Homo sapiens: one gene and its partner. The protein of the gene in region 1 purifies or fractionates together with the protein of each later gene. This does not show direct contact. Each region holds a gene or a part of one and is shown on either strand. Other genes may lie near its edges.

Region 1 (9,641 bases):
GGCTCCTCTTTGCCTTTGGGATGGGGTCCTACATAACTCCTGAGCATGAATAAAGAGGCTGCCTCCTCCTCCTGGGAGGTGTCTTTCACCAAATTCTGTCTCTGCTATTCTCAAACTTCCAGTTTCTCAATGTGTCATTCTCTTTCCACTTCTCAGTGCTTTCCTGAGGGCTGTTCCTCTAGCAATGTAATTCCTCTCGCAGAATTCAACTCAGGCATCAGCTTTCTTAGAAATCCTTCATTCACCCTCTCTCTGCCTTTTGCCCCTTGGGACATTAGCTCAGACCCTGCACACCTATGCACATCTTCATCCTTGGACTTACTATACTCATTGGACATTACCTGCTTATCGTTCTGCCTGCTAGATTGCTAGCTCCTTGTTTAGCTTGCTACCTCAGCATCCACAACAGCATCTGACAGATAGCTGTGCTCTGTTAATAGCTGCTGAACAGAGTGGAACTGCTACCTCTCCTTGGAGCACCTGTCCTCCACCCGCTTCCTAGTTCTCTATATGGTAGGAGCCTATTGAGCCTTCAAAATCCAGCCCCAAAACCCTTCTTTTAAAATATCTTTCTGTTAGGCAGAGATAGTCATTCTCTTCTCTTGTTACTTTTCTATCCATACATCTACTAAAGCAGCTACCACAGTATAATACATTGGCTTTCGTATTCTTTTACCCAGTAGACTGTGAGTCTCTAATCCACGGCTTCTCATTTCTATATTCCTACTGCCCTTCCCAGTGCCTGACATACATTTTTTTTTACTAGTGTATTATTCATCTTCCCCATTGGAATGTAAACTCTGAGGGCAAAGACCTTGCCTGTCTTATTTGCCACCGTATTCCCAGCTCTGAAAATCATGCTTGATATAGAACAATCAGTATTAGCTATACTTAAGTGGTCCTTAACTCTTAAAAATCAATGCAATTTAAGAGTATTGTGCACCACACTAATGGTGCTTTACTAGAGCACAAAATCACATTTCATTGCCACTTACGTTTATTTACATGCTATATTCTTTTTTTTTTTTTTTTTTAAAACAGGGTCTCACTCTGTTGCCCAAACTGGAGTGCAGTGGCGTGATCTTGGCTCACTGCAACCTCTGCCTCCCGGGTTCAAGCAATTCTTGTGCCTCAGCCTCCCAAGTAGCTGTGATTACAGGCATGCACCACTATGCCCAGCTAATTTTTTTTTTTTTTGTATTTTTAGTAGAGATGGAGTTTTGCCATCTTGCCCATGCTGGTCTCAAACTCCCGAGATCAAGTAATCCTCCTACCTTGGCCTCCCAAAGTGCTGGGATTACAGGCGCGAGCCACCGCACCCAGCCTATATTTAAAAACAATTTTTAAAAAAATTTTTCTTTTTCTTTTCAAAATCCAAAATCAGGTCAAATACGTTCTATATTCTTAAAACAATCTCCAGAAATCACCTAATAAGGATGCTTTGTAAACATCTCTGGGAGAGAATTTGGGGATGACTGATTCTTCATCATCACACAACAAATTTGCTGCAGTCTTCTAAATGGCCTCACTTGAACATATTCATAATCTAAATTAGTTTGGGTTAGTAAAAAGATGCTTACCTTGCTCTAACCCAGGGTTTGGTGTGCATGTCCAAACCACTTCCCCAGCTGCCATGTTTTTCTGAAGCTGGTGGCAAAAAGCCCCTTTCTGGGGCCAGCTCCTCTGCAATTGCCCTGATGTGGTAGGGCTCAAATCCACAGCACCCGCCAATGTACCTGACCCCCAGGTTGTAGGCCTCTCTGGCGTATTTTTGAATATCCCATCTGGTGGCAACTCTGGGTTCCAGTCCTGTAATAAGTGGCATTATGCCATTAGGCATTATACATTCTTTTCATAAAAATTCAAGATAAGTAGCTACAAGTATGTAATTTTCAATAAATGAATTGTTTTCAATATTCAATTTTTACATTTAAGAAAAAACTTTGCTACTTTGTGTTGTATGTTCACTTTTACATGCTGTGGTATCCAGCCTTCAGGAGGTTCCAAATGACCCCTGCCCTTTGATGTTTTTCTTCTTGTGCAGTCCCCTCTTGCATTATAACAGGGCTGGTCTGTGAGATCCATAGAATATGGCAGAACTGGCATGTGACTTCAGAGTCTAGGCTATACAAAACATCATGGTTTCTGCCTTGCACTTTCTTGGAGCACTCACCCTGGGGAAAGCCAGCTGCCATGTTGCAAGCATCACATGTTTCAAGCATGTTTTCTAGCATCACAGTGAAAAGGCCCATGAGCTGAGGAACTGAGGCCCCCAGTCAACAGACAGCAAGAAACTGACACTAACTCCCAAAAACCAATTAAGTGAGCTAGGAAGTAGATCCCCCAGCTCCCAACAGGCCTTCAGGTGATAATAGCCCTGGCAAATATCCGGACTCCAACCTCTTAGGAGACCCTGAACCAAAACCACCTAGTTATGCTATCCCTGAATTCTTGACCTGGAGAAACTGTGAGATAAGAAGTGGTTTTTCAAGCCACTACATTTTGCATTAATTTAATGTGTTATACAGCAGTAAGTAACACAAATGCCTTGCCTTTCTTCCTCTGTGGCTCCTCCAGAGTGATTGTATTTTATAATATCTTACTTGTCTAAGGGTCCCTATAAAATATAGGATAGGGTGTAAAGACCTTAGAAGGAAATAGGAGGCTGGGCATGCTCTGCCCCTGCTGACCACTCTGGCTTAATTTGTGAGATCAACCCACCCGCTCTTCCCAATCATGCTGGGAAAGTTTTTCCTTCTGCCTGGACTGCAAGTATCCCCTCACTTCATCTGCTTGGTCTCTTCATTAAAACTTGTTATACAGTCACTCGATGATGGTATCTTGCCTGCAATCCCAAAACTCTGGAGTAGCTGAGCCATATTAAAAATTGGAGAAAAGGACCTTAGAGATAACTGGTCTGATCTTATTTTCCCAATAAAGAATTTGAGAGCTAGAGGAATTTAAAGATTTTCCTAAGGTGACAGGACTTAGCAACAGAGCTGGAACTAGAACTAAATATCTGTTGATTCTCCCATGAAGGGCATCCTCACCAACCCCAAAGTATGACTCACTAGTTGTCTGTTTAGATGCTGATTCACCTTAGATTTTATATTTAAATTCAGAGATCTTTTTTGCTAGCTGGGACCATCCTTTCCTTCTGCTCTTCTCTAATACGAAGGGGCTTTTGGCTGCAGGGACAGAAACCAGGGACAAGACATGAGGAGACACCAAGCCATCTCTTCACTATGACAAAAGATCTCTGGGTATAGATTTACTTGAGTTTATATGCATATCAAATGAAGATATTGAGATGATTCATCAAATGTTGGTCTTACCAAATGGGAATTCTGGGAGATCGATGAATCCCTGCTTGTTGCAGTCAGGAGTGTGGTAAGCCAAGGGCTGGCTCATCAGGTGAGCTTTCAGTCGGGCAGCCTCCAAGCCCTCCTTCATGAGCTTCACTGTTTTTAAACTAATGGTGGGGTCAAAGTGGCAGTTCACACCAATGATGGATGCTCCTGTGAGTGGGAAGAACATGATAGACTTAGGGATGCACCAGAAACCAGCAGGGCCAGCTCTCCTCTCTTCATCAGGAATCAGGAAGTTCTTTTTTCATTTTTTGAGACACAATCTCACTCTGTTGCCCAGGCTGGAGTGCAGTAGCGTGATCTCAGCTCACTGCAGTCTCCACCTCAAGTGATCAAGCAATCCTCCCACCTCAGCCTCCCAAGTTGCTGTGACTACAAGTGTGTGCCACCACGTCTGGCTAATTTTTGTTTGTTTGTTTGTTTTTTTATAGATATGGGGTTTCGCCATGTTGCCCAGGCTGGTCTCGAACTCCTGAGCTCAAGTGATCCAACAGCTTCCCAGACTGCTGGGATTACAGGCATGAGCCACCACACCCAGCAGGAAGCTTTTAATTGGAATGATGAACTGGAAGCATAGCATTAGGTCCTCATTCCCCACAAACCTCTTACCTTTGAGTGAGAATGATTACTAGCAGGCAGGAAGTGCTTTCTGTGAAAGTGCTTTGAAGAGTCTGGTATAATTGAAGTGTAATTTGTGCACATTTGGCTGTCCATCTCTTTTTTTTTTTTTTTTTTTCTGAGACACAGACTCTTGCTCTGTTGCCCAGGCTGGAGTGCAGTGGCACGATCTCAGCTCACCACAGCCTCTGCTTCCTGGGTTCAAGTGATTCTCCTGCCTCAGCCTCCTGAGTAGCTGGGACTATAGGCGCACACCACCACGACAGGCTAATTTTTGTGTTTTTAGTGGAGACAGGGTTTCACCATGTTGGCCAGGATGGTCTCCATCTCCTGACCTTGTGATCCGCCCAGCTCAGCCTCACAAAGTGCTGGGATTACAGGTGTGAGCCACCATGCCCAGCCCTATCCATCTTTTTTCAAAAAAAAATTATTAGAATTTTTTTAAACTTCAAATTTTAGTAGTCAAACTTTCAACGTTGGACATTATGTTGCAAGCACAATAATTTTTCAACACTCCCAGCTGCTAGACTACACCTGTGTTTACCATACTGCTTGCTTGAGGTGTAAATAAATATTCCTTTTCACCAGGCCAACTTAATAAGTTCATTAGCCTTCTTGGGCACAGCAGCAGAATGTAATTTAGAAAAAAGTTTTTTAGACACGTGTTTGCTAGAAGGAATTTTGTGTCTAGGATTAATAGTTTGGGGAAAAAGAATCTCAAAAATCCTTTGACTTCAGCTACTCAATGTGGTTACTAGCCTATCAATCATTTTGACAAGCTTTTAATTTACATTTCAGCCTCCCCAGACTCACAACTATATGGGATTGTCTTCCTACAGTATTCTTGTAAAATTTGGTGCTGTGAAGTTTGATTTAGTGAGAACAAACTATGTTTTAGATATTTCATTTTCTTCAAAAACTTTCTTTATAGTCATTATGTTCTTAACTATATTTGGACCACAGATGATTTACCATGGCAATCACTAGACATGATTTTGGAAGTTTCCTCCTCCAGAAGATTTGAGAAGGCATTATGACATTATAATTCTTTTACTCTCTCCTCTCAAAGTGGGAGGAATTCCCAAATAGGACTTTTCTTTCCTTTTTTTTTTTTTGCATTTTAAAAATGGTGGTAAAATATATATCATGTAAAACTGGGCATTTTAACCTTTTTAAAAAATTTTATTTTTTTGTAGAGACAAGGCCTCATTATGTTGCCCAGGCTGGTCTTGAACTTCTGGCCTCAAGCGATCCTCACACCTTTGCCTCCCAAAGTGCTGGGATTGTAGGCATGAGCCCCTGCATCTGGCGCATTTTAGCCATTTTTAAGTGGCATTAATTATATTCACAATGTTGTGCAACCATTATCACTATTTCCACATTTTTTCGATACCCCAAAGAGAAACTCTACCCATTAAGAACTAACTCCTTATTTTCCCCTTCTGCTAGCCCCTGGTAACCTCAAATCTACTTTCTGTCTCTGTGGATTTGCCCATTCTAGATATGTCATATAAACAAAATCATATGATATTTGTCATTTTGTGAGTGGCTTAGTTTACTTAGCATGATGTTTCCAAGGTTCATCCCTGTTATGGCATGTTTGAGAACTTCATTTCTTCTTATAGCTGCATGATATTTCATTGTATGGATACACCACATTTTGTTTTATCCATTCACCTGTTGATGAACTCTGAGATTGTTTCCACCCCCAAAAAGGACTTTTTTGGGCCAGGTGCAGTAGCTCATGCCTGTAATCTTAGCACTTTGCGAGGCTGAGGCGGGTGGATTACCTGAGGTCAGGAGTTCAAGACCAGCCTGGCCAACATGGTGAAACCCCGTCTCTACTAAAAGTACAAAAATTAGCTGGACGTGGTAGTACACATCTGTAATCCCAGCTACTTGGGAGGCTGAGGCAGGAGAATCACTTGAACCCAGGAGGTGGAGGTTACAGTGAGCCAAGACGGTGCCATTGCACTCCAGCCTGGGCAACAGAGCAAAAACTCTGTCTCAAAACCAACCAACCAACCAACGAACCAACCAACCAACCAACCAACCAACCAAAAAGGACTTTTTTGGATGGACTCATGGCCTAGGATTTTGTATTTTGTATATAGAGATACCAAGAACAAGAGCAAGAGAGATTATTTCTGGATGCAGCATGAGTGATGAGTGACCCCAGTGTTCAGCTCCCAGGAGCAGCAGAGCTGGTGCCACAACCCATGGAATCCAGTGGTGAGTGGCAGGTGTCTTTGCTGTTGCTGGGCTGGGTCTGCAGTTTGCTCTTCATTCTTGTTCCAAGTAGGCCTCACTCCCCTTCATTCCTCTGAAACAGCTTTTGTTAAGGTTACCAATGACCTCAACCTTGCCAAATCCAGCAGCTGCTTCTCTGTTCTCATCTCACTGAAGCTCTCAGCAGTATGCAACCTAGTGGACAACTTCCTCCTTCATTGACACTCCCCTTCTCTTGGCTTCTGCAACTTCCCACACACTGTCCAAGTATTGTTTCTACTTTGCTGGTTTATTATTTTAATAAATGTCCTGTTTAATATTCTTTTTAAAAATGTCTTCATGTTCTGTGCTGTCTCCTCCTCAAGGCTAAAACTCTCAACTGGAGTGTTCCAAGATTGCACTGATTCATCTTTTCTTCCCCATTTAAACTTCCTTTTCTGTCCTAGGCTTTCAATACCATCTATATCCAGGTCTCTCCCATATTCCTCTCTCTTACCCTGACCTTCCCATTGGGCTCCAGATTTGAATATTGTGGATATATGCAAGTATCCAGAAGTAAATATACTTGTATGTGTGTGTATACCTATGTAGCCAGAATATGTGTGTGTATATATACATATACTTATATATTTTATATATATATATTCATCAGATTGTGTATACATATACTCACAAGTATATATATCCACAATATCCAAGTCTGGAACCAAGTGGGAAGATCATTGATATCAACTAAGCTATAAGCTGTTGAAGATTTTTGGCTACCCTTTTTTTTTGGATGTTGTGCTGCCAGAGTTTCTCTTTCCTTGCTTAATTAACTTCATTATATTAATAAATTAATAATATGTTGGCTATTTATTGGATGTCTTTTAGGTGTAAGCCTCCTTGCAAGAGATTATAGAGAAGTAGAAATAAAGGACATTGTTCCTGACATCAACAATTTTATAATTTAGCACAGGGTTTTCCAAGGTTTGGTCCATGAAAATAATGTTCCATGATCAATTAAGTTAGGAAGTAGCTGTTCACCACATCACCTTCTTGGAGACTAGGAATATATGTGAACATATCAAAGATATTGATAAGTTCCACAGTAAAGATATCTGCCTAAGGCCGGGCGCAATGGCTCACACCTGTAATCCCAGCACTTTGGGAGGCCGAGGCGGGTGGATCACGAGGTCAGGAGTTCGAGACCAGCCTGACCAAATAGTGAAACCCCGTCTCTACTAAAAAATACAAAAAATTAGCCAGGCATGGTGGCGGGTGCCCATAATCCCAGCTACTCGGGAGGCTGAGGCAGGAGAATCGCTTGAACCTGGGAGGCGGAGATTGCAGTGAGCCAAGATTGCGCCATTGCACTCCAGCCTGGGCTGCAGTGTGACAAGACTCCGTCTCAAAAAACAAAACAAAACAAGATATCTGCTTAATTTGGTTTAACACAGCATTTTCTAAATGTATTTAACCACAGAACCCTATTAACATTCTCGATGATTGGAAACTATAGACTGAGGATATTCTTTTTTTTTTTTTTTTTATTGAGACGGAATCTCGCTCTTTCGCCCAGGCTGGAGTGCAGTGGCGCAATCTCGGCTCACTGCAAGCTCCGCCTCCCGGGTTCACGCCATTCTCCTGCCTCAGCCTCCCGAGTAGCTGGGACTACAGGCGCCCGCCACCAGTCCCGGCTAATTTTTTGTATTTTTTAGTAGAGGTGGGGTTTCACTGTGTTAGCCGGGATGGTCTCGATCTCCTGACCTCATGATCCACCCGTCTCTGCCTCCCAAAGTGCTGGGATTACAGGCGTCAGCCACCGCGCCCAGCCATTTTTAAAACTTTTCCTCTGGGATTCAATAATATCAATATTCTTACAAAAATAAATTAATGGTTTTTATGTTAACGAAAGTAGTATACACTGATTTGTAGACAGATGTGCACTAGTGTGTTCTTTTAAGACTTACTAATCACAAACTGATTGAAATCTATCATCACCTGCTTTCACCAGGCGCACTGCACACTCGCCGGGGGGCACGCCATGCAAATCTCCTTCTGGGCCAATGCACATGGTTGCTGCCACAGGTTTACCGGATGCTATCAAGGTTTCAACTGCCCACACAGCTTCTTCAACGTGTTCAAAATACTGGAATCAGTTAAGGTTAGAGTACTTTTAATCTCGTTTCTCCCAAAACAATTTTTTTTTTTTTTTTGAGACGGAGTTTTGCTCTTTCACCCAGGCTGGAGTGCTGTGGTGCGATTTCGGCTCACTGCAACATTTGCCTCCCAGTTTCAAGCAATTCTCCTGCCTCCGCCTCCCAAGTAGCTGGGATTACAGGCGCCCGCCACCACGCCTGGCTAATTTTTGTATTTTTAGTAGAGACGGGGTTTCACCATGTTGGCCAGGCTGTTCTCAAACTCCTGACCTCGTGATCCACACGCCTTGGCCTCCCAAAGTGCTGGGATTACAGGTGTGAGCCACCGTGCCCAGCCTTTCCCAAAACAATTTGAAAATGTATTCTATTGCTTAAAAACTTCATTATTACTGTTTTCAAACTTTGAATTGTGACCCATTAGCATTTTTAAAATGAAATAGAATGATTTCTTACTGTAAATTGCAGTCAAAAAGTTTGAAAAACACCATATCAGATTAATTAAATCAAATTTAGTAGTAGCCCTGAATTGGAAAACGATTTCAAAAACTAAATATTACTATTGCTAGTTATGATTGTCACCTAACCCCACACAGTACTCTTGAAAGCAAAAGGTAGAGAAAATGTACTAGGTGTATTTGTCTTATCTTTCACCACATCTTTCTTTACCTCTGCAATCAAGAAGTCCACGTTCTTCTTCATAAAGACCTCTAACTGTTGCAGAAATACTTTTTTGACTTCAGTTTCACTCTTGCAGCTAAGGTATGAAGGTGTCTGACTCACTCCTCCTGCTACCAAAGCATCTCCTTCATCAGCCACTTGTCGGGCGATGTCGCAAGCAGCTTCATTGACTTCCTGCCCCTAAAATGGGTGAGTATATGAGACATCTAAATTTTCATGTGAAATTGAAATAAAATTATTATTCAAACATTCACATCTTAGTTGTATATTTACAATAGTATCTTATTCCAGAAAATGACTGTTATGGAATAGTTCAAAGCTTTACCAAGTTGAACAGTTTGCCATAACAATAACACTAATAATAGTGATAGTAACAATAAATATATATATGACATTACATTGTACCAAAGATGTGTGAGATGGTAAAAGTTTTTACATTGAAGGATGTTATCTGGTATCTTCCAGTGCCTGAGATGCACTTAGAAGAGTACCTAACAAATAGTAGTGGTGGTGATGATGATTTGCTTTTATGATTGAGAAGATTAAAATTAAATTTAAATACCTGTAGAATTCAGGATGTTTTTGTATGTATATTCTCAATTAACAG
Region 2 (9,641 bases), on another chromosome or scaffold:
AAACAAAACAAAAAATCTTGTTGTAGGCTGTAAAACTTAAGGGTAAAGAATCCACTGGGAATTTAAGGCTTTCTTAGAAATATTTTTCATGGCACTTTAACATTAAATATCACTAAAAGGCAAAATATGTAAATATTCATAGTTACAAAGCTACATAATTGAAAGTACATGCCATATCATTTATTAAGAAACTATGTTGTCAAATTTTGTTTTCTTGAAGTTAAATTGTACTTAAGGAAGGTTATTTATGTTTGGCTGAATTAACATAAATCATAAACGTCAATTCACTAGTGTACAGTGCAAATTGTGTTTTGAGTAAATACATCAAATACCACTCATTTCTTACAGAACTGAATGTCATTCCTTGCTGGAAATGCAATTAAAATGACTTATTTCTCTCACAAGGGTAGTTATTATCCTTCCTTCAACTATTAGCCTACTGTTAAACCCTAAAATTGTTATTAGACAAATTCCTTTTGGTTATGCTTACAGACCATCCTCACAATAATCCTTTTCTTGTACTGCAATCATTGCAGAAAAAACTCTATGAGTCTAACAAGTCATTCTTGCCACACCATACTCTAAGCTGACCACAGCAGGTTCTGATTTAGAAAACTCTTCTGCATATTCACTATAACGATTATCTGCCGGGCTGCTGCCCTCTATAGTTCGAAGAGCATCATTTACGGGTAGCAGAGTCTGCTCTTTAAAACACAGGGAAGTTTTGAGGTTAGGTGATTCAGGATGAACTGAATGTAACAATTCCTTGGTGAGGATGCCATCTGTTTGCTTATTTTTGCGTTGTTTAATTTTCTAGAACAAACACAAATTTGAAAAAATTACTAATTGCATAAGCCACAATATGTTACATGAAAAAAGAAAACATGCTTTTGCAAAATATGTTCTCTGTATGTATAATGCAAAACTAAATCTCAAAAAAGTAGAAACATTTAATGCATATGACATGGTTGAAAATCCTAATTGTGTACAATTTTTTGCTGTGGAAAATTGTTAGTTTTTATATTTATTAAACAAACAATCCAGCAAGACTTGACTGCAGGCGATCACTAGGCTTCCACACTTAAAATGGACATATATTACCTAGAAAGCATAACAGGTAAACATTTATAATAAAAGAAATGTGTATGAAACATTCACCCTGAAAACACAACAAACAAACTTGTGTAGCTAAAGGGCTCACTGACTATATAGAGTTTTTCTTACATGGTTTTCCTACAGTGGTTTGTTAGGTAAAAATAACAGACTTTAAACACAACAGAACTTTACTTTTTTAACAGAAGATTTTTAAAGTGTCCTGTGGCAGAGTATCATGCTCTCCAAATTCTTGGACTGTCCCGATAATCTTGTATTACCTATTATCCTGGACTTGCCTCTCTTGACCATATCCTTCTACAATTTACTCAAGCAGTCATTACCTCTTTATCTAAAAGATGACTAAGGGAGACTCCTGCCTGAGAGGTAGATGAGACAGTCTTACTGTTATAACTGTCTAGGATTTAAAAAATATATATATACTTACTGATCCTTTTTGCTTATATAGGATGGCAGAAAAAAGATTATAGGAAAGTCTTAGGGTAGAGAGGGATTTGTTAAACAAGACACACACAGAAAGCATAAAACATTGAGCAATTTGACATGAAAATTCAAAACATCTATATATAGCATACCATAAATAAAGTGGAAAAGACAATAGGCTGGACAAAACCATTTGTAATATATATAACTAACAAAGAATTAGTGCCTGGCATATAAACAACTCTTACAAATCACTAAGAAAAAGGCAAATATGCCAACAGAAAAATGAGCAAAGGTTTGAACAGTCCATTCACAGAAAAGGAAAACCAAATGGCCAACAAATATGGAAAGTCATTTAACTTCATTTGTAATCATGGAAATCCAAAACTGAAAACAATTTAAATATTCATCCATAGCTGAATGGATAGACTGTGATATATTCATATAATATAAAGTTATATAGTAGTTACTAATAAAAAGATGAATAAAAGCTACATGTATCAACATGGATAAATGTCAAAACACTGTTGAGCAAAATGAAGCACATAAACAGTATGGTAACTTTTATATAGTTTTAAAACATCAGTTTCTTAAGCAGAGTGAAGGGTATATTGGCCTATACATTGTCTGTTTCCCTTTACAACTCATACAAACATTATAGATAGTCTTTGGTATTTTTTCAATACACAGTAAAAATATTTTAAGTCAAGAAAAACAGTATTATAAATTGTGATACATGGGTGAAGACTGGGTAAGAGTATAGAGGGTCTTCAAATAGATCTATGTTTTATTTCTTTTTTTTTTGTTTGTTTTTGTTTTGAGATGGAGTCTTGCTCTGTCACCCAGGCTGGAGTGCAGAGGCATGATCTTGGCTCACTGCAACCTCCGCCTCCCAGGTTCAAGCAATTCTCCTGCTTCAGCCTCCCAAGTAGCTGGGATTACAGGCATGCGCCACCATGCCCGGCTACTTTTTTGTTATTTTTTTAGTAGAGATGGGGTTTCACTGTGCTGACCAGGCTGGTCTCAAACTCTCCTGACCTGGTGATCCACCCGCCTCGGCCTCCCAAAGTGCTGGGATTACAGGCGTGAGCCACTGCGCCCGGCCTATGTTTTATTTCTTAAAACAAGAACAAGAAAGATCTGAGGCATATATAGTAAATGTTAAAATCCCACAAAAGCTAGCTGGTGGGTACACAGATAGTTATTATGTTTATCTATACGTTATGCTATATACTTCCGGTATTTTAATGTATTTTAAAATACAAAGAAAGTGATTCGAACTAACGTATTCAATCAAAGTAGGGATGACCTGATTTTGAAGAAACTGCTTACTTCAGAAGTTTATGTGCTGATTTACACCAACAATACAAATATTAGTCTAATCGTAAACTAATTTCACATTCCAAATATATTAGATACTTCAGAATACTTACAGATTCTAGGTCTTTAATATCTTTCTCTAATTGTTTATTTTGCTCATTCATATTCATAATTATATTAAATACAGACTGCCTAGGATGCAGTGTTCGATCAAATTGATGGTACATGTTCCTCCAAAACCTTTATGACAAAAAAAAGTTTCAATAAATTGTGTTTGAGAAAATTCAAGTATAAATACTCCAATGATGTCAACTTACTTAAAATTGAAAGATACTGTATTTGGCTCCAAAACTGTAAATCTGTGAGATTCGGAACTGTAGAGAGGATTTAAGTACTTCTTTTGGTCTTCCAAAAGAAATGGCCACAGGGAATAAGTCTTCTCCTTCAACCTTAATATAATGAGAAAAACACAGAGATCTTTCCTATAGATGCAAAGTAGTAATGGTAATATTCATTTTTATAAATCAGGCGATGGCTTCCGAAGCAGATTTAAATTTTAGTTTTTTCTTGTATTCACAGTCTAACCTTGTCTCAGAATTCTGTATTATCTCTATTCTCCTTTTTCATTCATAATTAGGTAATAAAGTCATGTTTCTTGAACACAACACAGGTATAACATTTTCTCTCACAACCATATATTTTAAGGGATTCCTCTCAACTCACACAATTTCAAAAACTTGGTCTCTGTTCCACCTACTTCAAATCACCACAAACATACACATAGAACAAGACACTAATGCATCTTTCTGTCTGGCCTTCTCTTAACCCCACGTCTGGGCCGTAGTGGCGAGTATCATAGGGCAGGAGCACACGTAAGTGTGAGTGGGTACAAAAAGGGAACAGGCAAAATCAGGATGTTATGCAAGAATTTTAAAAGCCAATTATTTTGCAAATCTAAGAGTAGCTGGGCAAAGGTAAGAATGGTTTTAGACTGGACATTTACCAAGTAAACATAATGTAGGTATCCAGGGGGAAAGTGGAAAATCTCCTGATTTTTCCATAACTCCTAAGATGACCCATAGGTGTGTCTTGGAGAAAAACTACTAGGAAATATCTACTTTTACTTCCATCTTTCCATTTTTGAGAATGTTTGGCACTAATTAAGAATAGTTTTTCCTAAAATAGCTCTGTACTCCAGGAAAAGAGTTACCTCTGTGCTCCAAATTATAATAAACTATTTTGAATCACTGTAACATAGAGCTAAAGCCTCAATGTTCTTTGATTGTTCATCTCCACCATTCTCTATTCACTTTTTATTCCCTTTACGCATTTTTAGAATTTTCCACATGCTCTCAGTTCTGCTGTTTACTCTGTTGGGAGTGTGAGCATGTGGCTATCTTCAAATACTACCAGATTTAGCTTCCTTAATATGTCCCTTGGATGTTCAAAAGTCTGTTAAGTGCTCTTTATTGCCTACTGTAAGAGGCAATAAAGAAATCCAAACTCAGAAGCCCAACCTAAAACAATATACATAGGACCTCTAAGACCTACTCCAGAGATCTTCCTTACAGCAAAATTTAGGCAAAAACCCCTATCCCCGAAGACTGGTCAGGAAATAACATGAACTAGGGTCAAGTAGTGTCTCAGGGCTTTTCTGAGACCCTACTCAAGGACGGACACGCTGCAGCCAACATAGCTAGATTTATTTTCCCCAAAGAACTGTCTGTTTAGAAATGTGGGGAGAGCTATAAGGCTCCATCCTATCTTAAAACAAACCAACAGTTTAAAATATTTTACACTTTAAAACTAGCGACTGATACATTCTGGGAAATTAAACAGCATAAGGATTTCTCTGTTCTAAAATATATAAATGCAGACCGAAAAGAAGCATGAGGAGACTTTCCAGGGTGTTGACAACATTTCATATTCTGGGTGCTGGTTACATAGGTGTGTGAGTTTGGTAAGATTTACTGAGCTTCACACTTAACGCTCTATGTACTTTTCTGTATGTATGCTACACTTCAAAACACATTTTATAATGTGCTTTTACTATTAGCTGAAAGGTGGGGGAATATTAGAAGGGTACTCAGCTTTAGAAATACAAAAAATAAAATCTTTACAATAAACTTTCAAATTGTCAAGATATTTTATTAAGTTTCAAACATGATTTTTGTTAGACCTCGGCTAAGTAGGGGGAAAAGGAGACTCTTTTAATTGAATCATCTTACTTGAGCTCTTCTCTTTCCTTCTGACAATTTCCAAGGAAGTTTCCAAACTGGCATGAATGAATATGCTCATGGATCTGAAGAAGAAATGCTTCACTGAATTCAAAGGCTTGTGGAAACTGTTCGGTCAAATGCCACACACATTCCAAGAACTGAGTAAACACTGGTGAGACTTCCTTTGGGTCACCATCCAACTGGCCACACCTAACCCCACAGAAAGTATAAGCTTTTAAAAACACCTCTGAAAGGTCCATTGTTCAGGTATTGTTAATCTTAAACATACAAAAATATTCCTAAAGCACTGTTACATTAGCATGCAAAACTAGAATTTTTATTGAAACCATTTATGAGTTTTTAAACCACAGCTTTAAAGGATCTGTTACCATCTCTAAATAAAATGCAGCCCAAAAGGAAGGTAATAAATAGTCATGAAAATTAACAAGCGTACTAGAATTGAAAGAAATTACAGAAAAAAATTAAATGTCTTTACGTAAAATACAGTAAAAACCATGACACTCTTACCTCCCATCACGCATGTGAGTTCATAAGGAACAGAAACATTTTGGCATTCTAAACTTGGTTTACTAATTTTATAAAATATATGACTGTGTAACTGTGACTCACCTCTCTGAAAATTTATGTCCAAAAGAGATCCAATCCTTTTCTATTAAAACCTTAATGAGAAAAAGTAAAATTCACTTTCTGACTACTTTCAATTATTTTGTTTAGGCTGGATTAAATCTTATTAGTTTAAAAACAGTATTTACTGTACACTTTTAACTTATAAACAAAACAGCACAAAAAACCACAGGCAAAAGAATGCCAAAACCTTGATTCGAGGTGGGGTTAAAGAAGAATAAAAATGCATAAAAAGAAATAGAGTAGTTTCGTGACTTAAATTATTTCCGTTGAATTTATTACATTTTAAGTGAAAAGTACATGTTATAAAGCAGTATTACATTTAAGTTTTTGTATGTATGAAGATGATATATCATAGGAAAAAGGCTAGAAAAATGTAAACCAAAACTGCTAACAAAGGATAACTCTAGGTGGTAGACTGAGGTGGATATTTTAAAACTTTTGGCTTACTTGTACATTTTTTATATTATTTATATACTACTTTTTTTAAGAAAAAAAAACTAATGATAAAAAGACCAATTATTTTAATCAAATCATCTTACTTGAGTTCATGTTCAGATCCAAGTGTTAACATCTATCCTCTTGAATGGACTGACTTTATGTTTTCCTTGCCACAGCTTCTCTACTTACCCACTCCACTGTAAAAACAGATTTCTAACTTTTTCAGTCTAATCTAAACACATATTTGTAGTATTTAGTACACTTTATCACTTAACTATACAGTCACCAAGCACATTATTTTCATAGTGTCAAAACTGCTGGTTTTAGCTTCTCTGATTTTGTCTCAAGCCTCTGCTTTCCGCAGAAGGCTATACACTGATGTGGCTGAGGATGTAGTCGCTGGAGCTCAGGCACAGGCTCCAATCCCAGCTTCACCACTTTGTGTGACCTTGTGGCTGGAGCCACAGATTTTATTCTGGTCTCTCTGCCATTCTTCTACAAAACCATGTTTAAAGCATAACTCAATATCTTTCTCACTAAATGTATTCTTTGGCTTATCTCAGTGAAGAGCCAGAGAGCAGCACCATCCATCCTGGCACCTAATTCAGAAACTTGGAAATCATCCCAGAGGAAGACTCCTCTCTTCTATCCCACATCCAATCCATGATCAATTCTTCCTGACTCTACTTTCTTTTTTTTTTGAGACAGGGTCTCACTCTGTTGCCCAGGCTGGAGTGCAGTGGCGCAATCTTGGCTCACTGCAACCTCCGCCTCCTGGGTTCAAGTAATTCTTCTGCCTCAGCCTCCTGAGTAGCTGGGATTATAGGTACACATCACCATGCCCGGCTAATTTTTGTATTTTTAGCAGAGACAGGGTTTCACCATATTGGCCAGGCTGGTCTCGAATTCCTGACCTCATGATCCACCCGCCTTGGCCTCCCAAAGTGCTGGGATTACAGGCGTGAGCCACTGCGCCCAGCCACTGACTCTACTCTCTAAACATCCCTGGAACCCATCACCTCCCCCTTCACTTGTGTGTTACTATTTTAGTTTGGTAAAATTAAAAACTTTTGTCTCATAAGTTATCATAATAGTGTCTACACTCGCCTCCTAGCCTCCATTCCCACTCCCTTTGGCCTTCAAGATACCAAGCCACCTTTTTAAAAAGCACATCTAATCAAGTTACTGTTTGCTTGTTTAAAACTCTTTAATAGCTCCCATTATCCAAAGAGGGGAAAGCCCCATTCCAGCCTTCTCTTTCTCAGGCCCTGACCCCACTCTATTCCTCTGCCTCCAAGCCCCCTATTCTAATACTCACTCTGAACTCCATCCATCACACATTACCTGCAGTCACCCAAAGAGGTTATGCTTTGATTTACACTGTTCCTATTGCCTGGGAAGCTCTCACATCATCCCCATTTATTACATGATTTCATTTGGATGTCTAACAAATAATTAAAGCCAAACATGGCAAAGAAAATATTCCTTATCGTACACTCTCAAGGTAAGCTGAGCATTATTTTCTTATTAGCAGCACTCCCGCTTGGCCTGTCCCAGAGTCGGTATGTTAGCAGCAAAAAATAGCGGTGCTGAAAAGGGACTGGTGATTTTAAATCTTCCTTTGCTTTAAGATGGCACTGTATTTAATAATTCAAGACTAATGAAAATTTTCTAACATCTCTTCATTTAATTTACCATGAGTTAAGATGTAAATTTTGAAAACATAAGTTAATCTGCTCACACGTTTAAAAGCAAGCAAATAAAAATCTGATCATACCTTTAAAAGCAAAGAAACAAAAAAAAGGAACTAGGTCTTTATCTTCACAAAGGAGAAAATCTATTCAACTAGAAATTTTATCTTCAGATATAAAACATGCCTAATATGTTATTACACTTACTAATGCAGGTGTTTTAAATAGAAGGTTTCCTTCAGAATTTAATTTTAAGTACTCTTATTTGTGCATTGTTTTATTACATTATTTACATTTGTTAGATAAAAATGAGGGAGAAAATACTGAATATTTCCATTGCAACATTTTAGGAAAAAAAATTATTTAAATCTAAAGCTTATTGTCAGTGTTAGCACAAATGGAAATAAGTCTAATTCAAGGTTTTTCAACCTCGACAGTACTGACATTACAGGCCAGATCAGTCTTTGCTGTGAGGCTGACCCCCCAGCAAAAATTTTGTGCATTATAAAATGTTTAGTTAGCAATATCCCTGGCCACTCCCACGGATGCCAGTCTCATCATTTCCTTTAGTGCAAAACTGTCTCCAACATTGCCAAATGTCCTCTGGAGGAACATAAAATTACTCCTACTTAAGAACCATTGGTCTAACCAAATAAATCCTTACCATGAATCCTTTGATTGTCCTGTAGTAGGAATCCAATAAAAGAGAACCCAGGGAACAAACCTGGGAAGTCCTATCCCAACCATCGGAACAATGCACCAACACACTTGCATTTTCAACTGTTATTGCCTGAAAAGAAAGATCACATACATTCTAGCGTACTTTAAGGTAAACCAATAAATTCTACTTGAAAATCATACTAGCAGGTATTGTGTTACAAGGAAGTGCTATGCCTGCAATGATAATGTCACAGCATAATTTCCAAAATACACAACAAAATATGGTAACAACAAAAACACAAGCAAACAAACAAAAAAAAAACAAAGAAAAAATGCCACTTCAAAGTATTTAGGAGCATCTTTTTAAGTTTCTACATTAAGTGCTACATGATATTTTTAAGGCTGAAAATAAAGTGAAGCTCATTAAAGAGGTAAAAAATAATAAAAGTTATCTGATGAATAGATACCAGCCCCCAACAGAATACATCTACTCCTTCCCAATCATTATAGACCCCAAGACCAAATATGAAAGATAAAGTATTACTTTGGCCAAGAAGATTGCAGCATCCATAACAGCTTTGATATGGCGAAGCCATCCCGAGCTCTCCAAACCGGAGTAGAAATCATTGACAGAAAGCCCTTTAGTGCCATTGACTGAAAGAGGTATAAAAATATTTCAATTAGAATATGGCTAGAGTTTCTGCATTTCTTTTTTCAAGATCTCTCTAGATAAGTGAATGAAGAAAGAAGACAAAATAAACAGGCAAGACTCTATAAATGAAAAGATGCTATTAAAAGCTCAATAACTGATTCTTGGATATATTTTTCTATTATTCCCGTGCTTACAAAAATGCTCCAATCTCTTAAAAAACATTGTAGCACAAGCATCTAACTAAAAATAATCTTATATTTTAATTTTTTAAATTCTATACTATGACTGGAATATTTAAATGAACATTACTACAAATTAGTATTTATTGTACTGACTACTCAAGAATATCTATCTAATAACATTTTTTTTGCAAAACCATTAGAATTGTACTGTCTAATACAGCAGCCACTAACCAAATACGGCTACTAAACATTTGAAATATGGCTTGTCCAAACTCAGATGTGTAGTAAGTGTAAA

The links.
Region 2: the proteins of BHMT (region 1) and MTMR6 purify together in Homo sapiens (affinity purification with mass spectrometry; 2 studies listed by BioGRID and IntAct, with this or other methods). This does not show direct contact.

What each region holds. Positions count from the first base shown.
Region 1 is NC_000005.10:79,119,923-79,129,563, reverse strand, and holds part of BHMT (betaine--homocysteine S-methyltransferase 1), read right to left. Parts: intron 9,215-9,641; coding exon 9,023-9,214; intron 8,347-9,022; coding exon 8,199-8,346; intron 3,519-8,198; coding exon 3,336-3,518; intron 1,810-3,335; coding exon 1,581-1,809; intron 1-1,580.
Region 2 is NC_000013.11:25,248,680-25,258,320, forward strand, and holds part of MTMR6 (phosphatidylinositol-3,5-bisphosphate 3-phosphatase MTMR6), read right to left. Parts: intron 9,167-9,641; coding exon 9,057-9,166; intron 8,643-9,056; coding exon 8,517-8,642; intron 6,394-8,516; coding exon of another isoform or gene 6,343-6,393; exon of another isoform or gene 5,770-6,342; intron 5,756-5,769; coding exon 5,706-5,755; intron 5,286-5,705; coding exon 5,085-5,285; intron 3,306-5,084; coding exon 3,174-3,305; intron 3,097-3,173; coding exon 2,970-3,096; intron 814-2,969; coding exon 553-813; 3' UTR 1-552. UniProt on the Homo sapiens protein: Lipid phosphatase that specifically dephosphorylates the D-3 position of phosphatidylinositol 3-phosphate and phosphatidylinositol 3,5-bisphosphate, generating phosphatidylinositol and phosphatidylinositol 5-phosphate.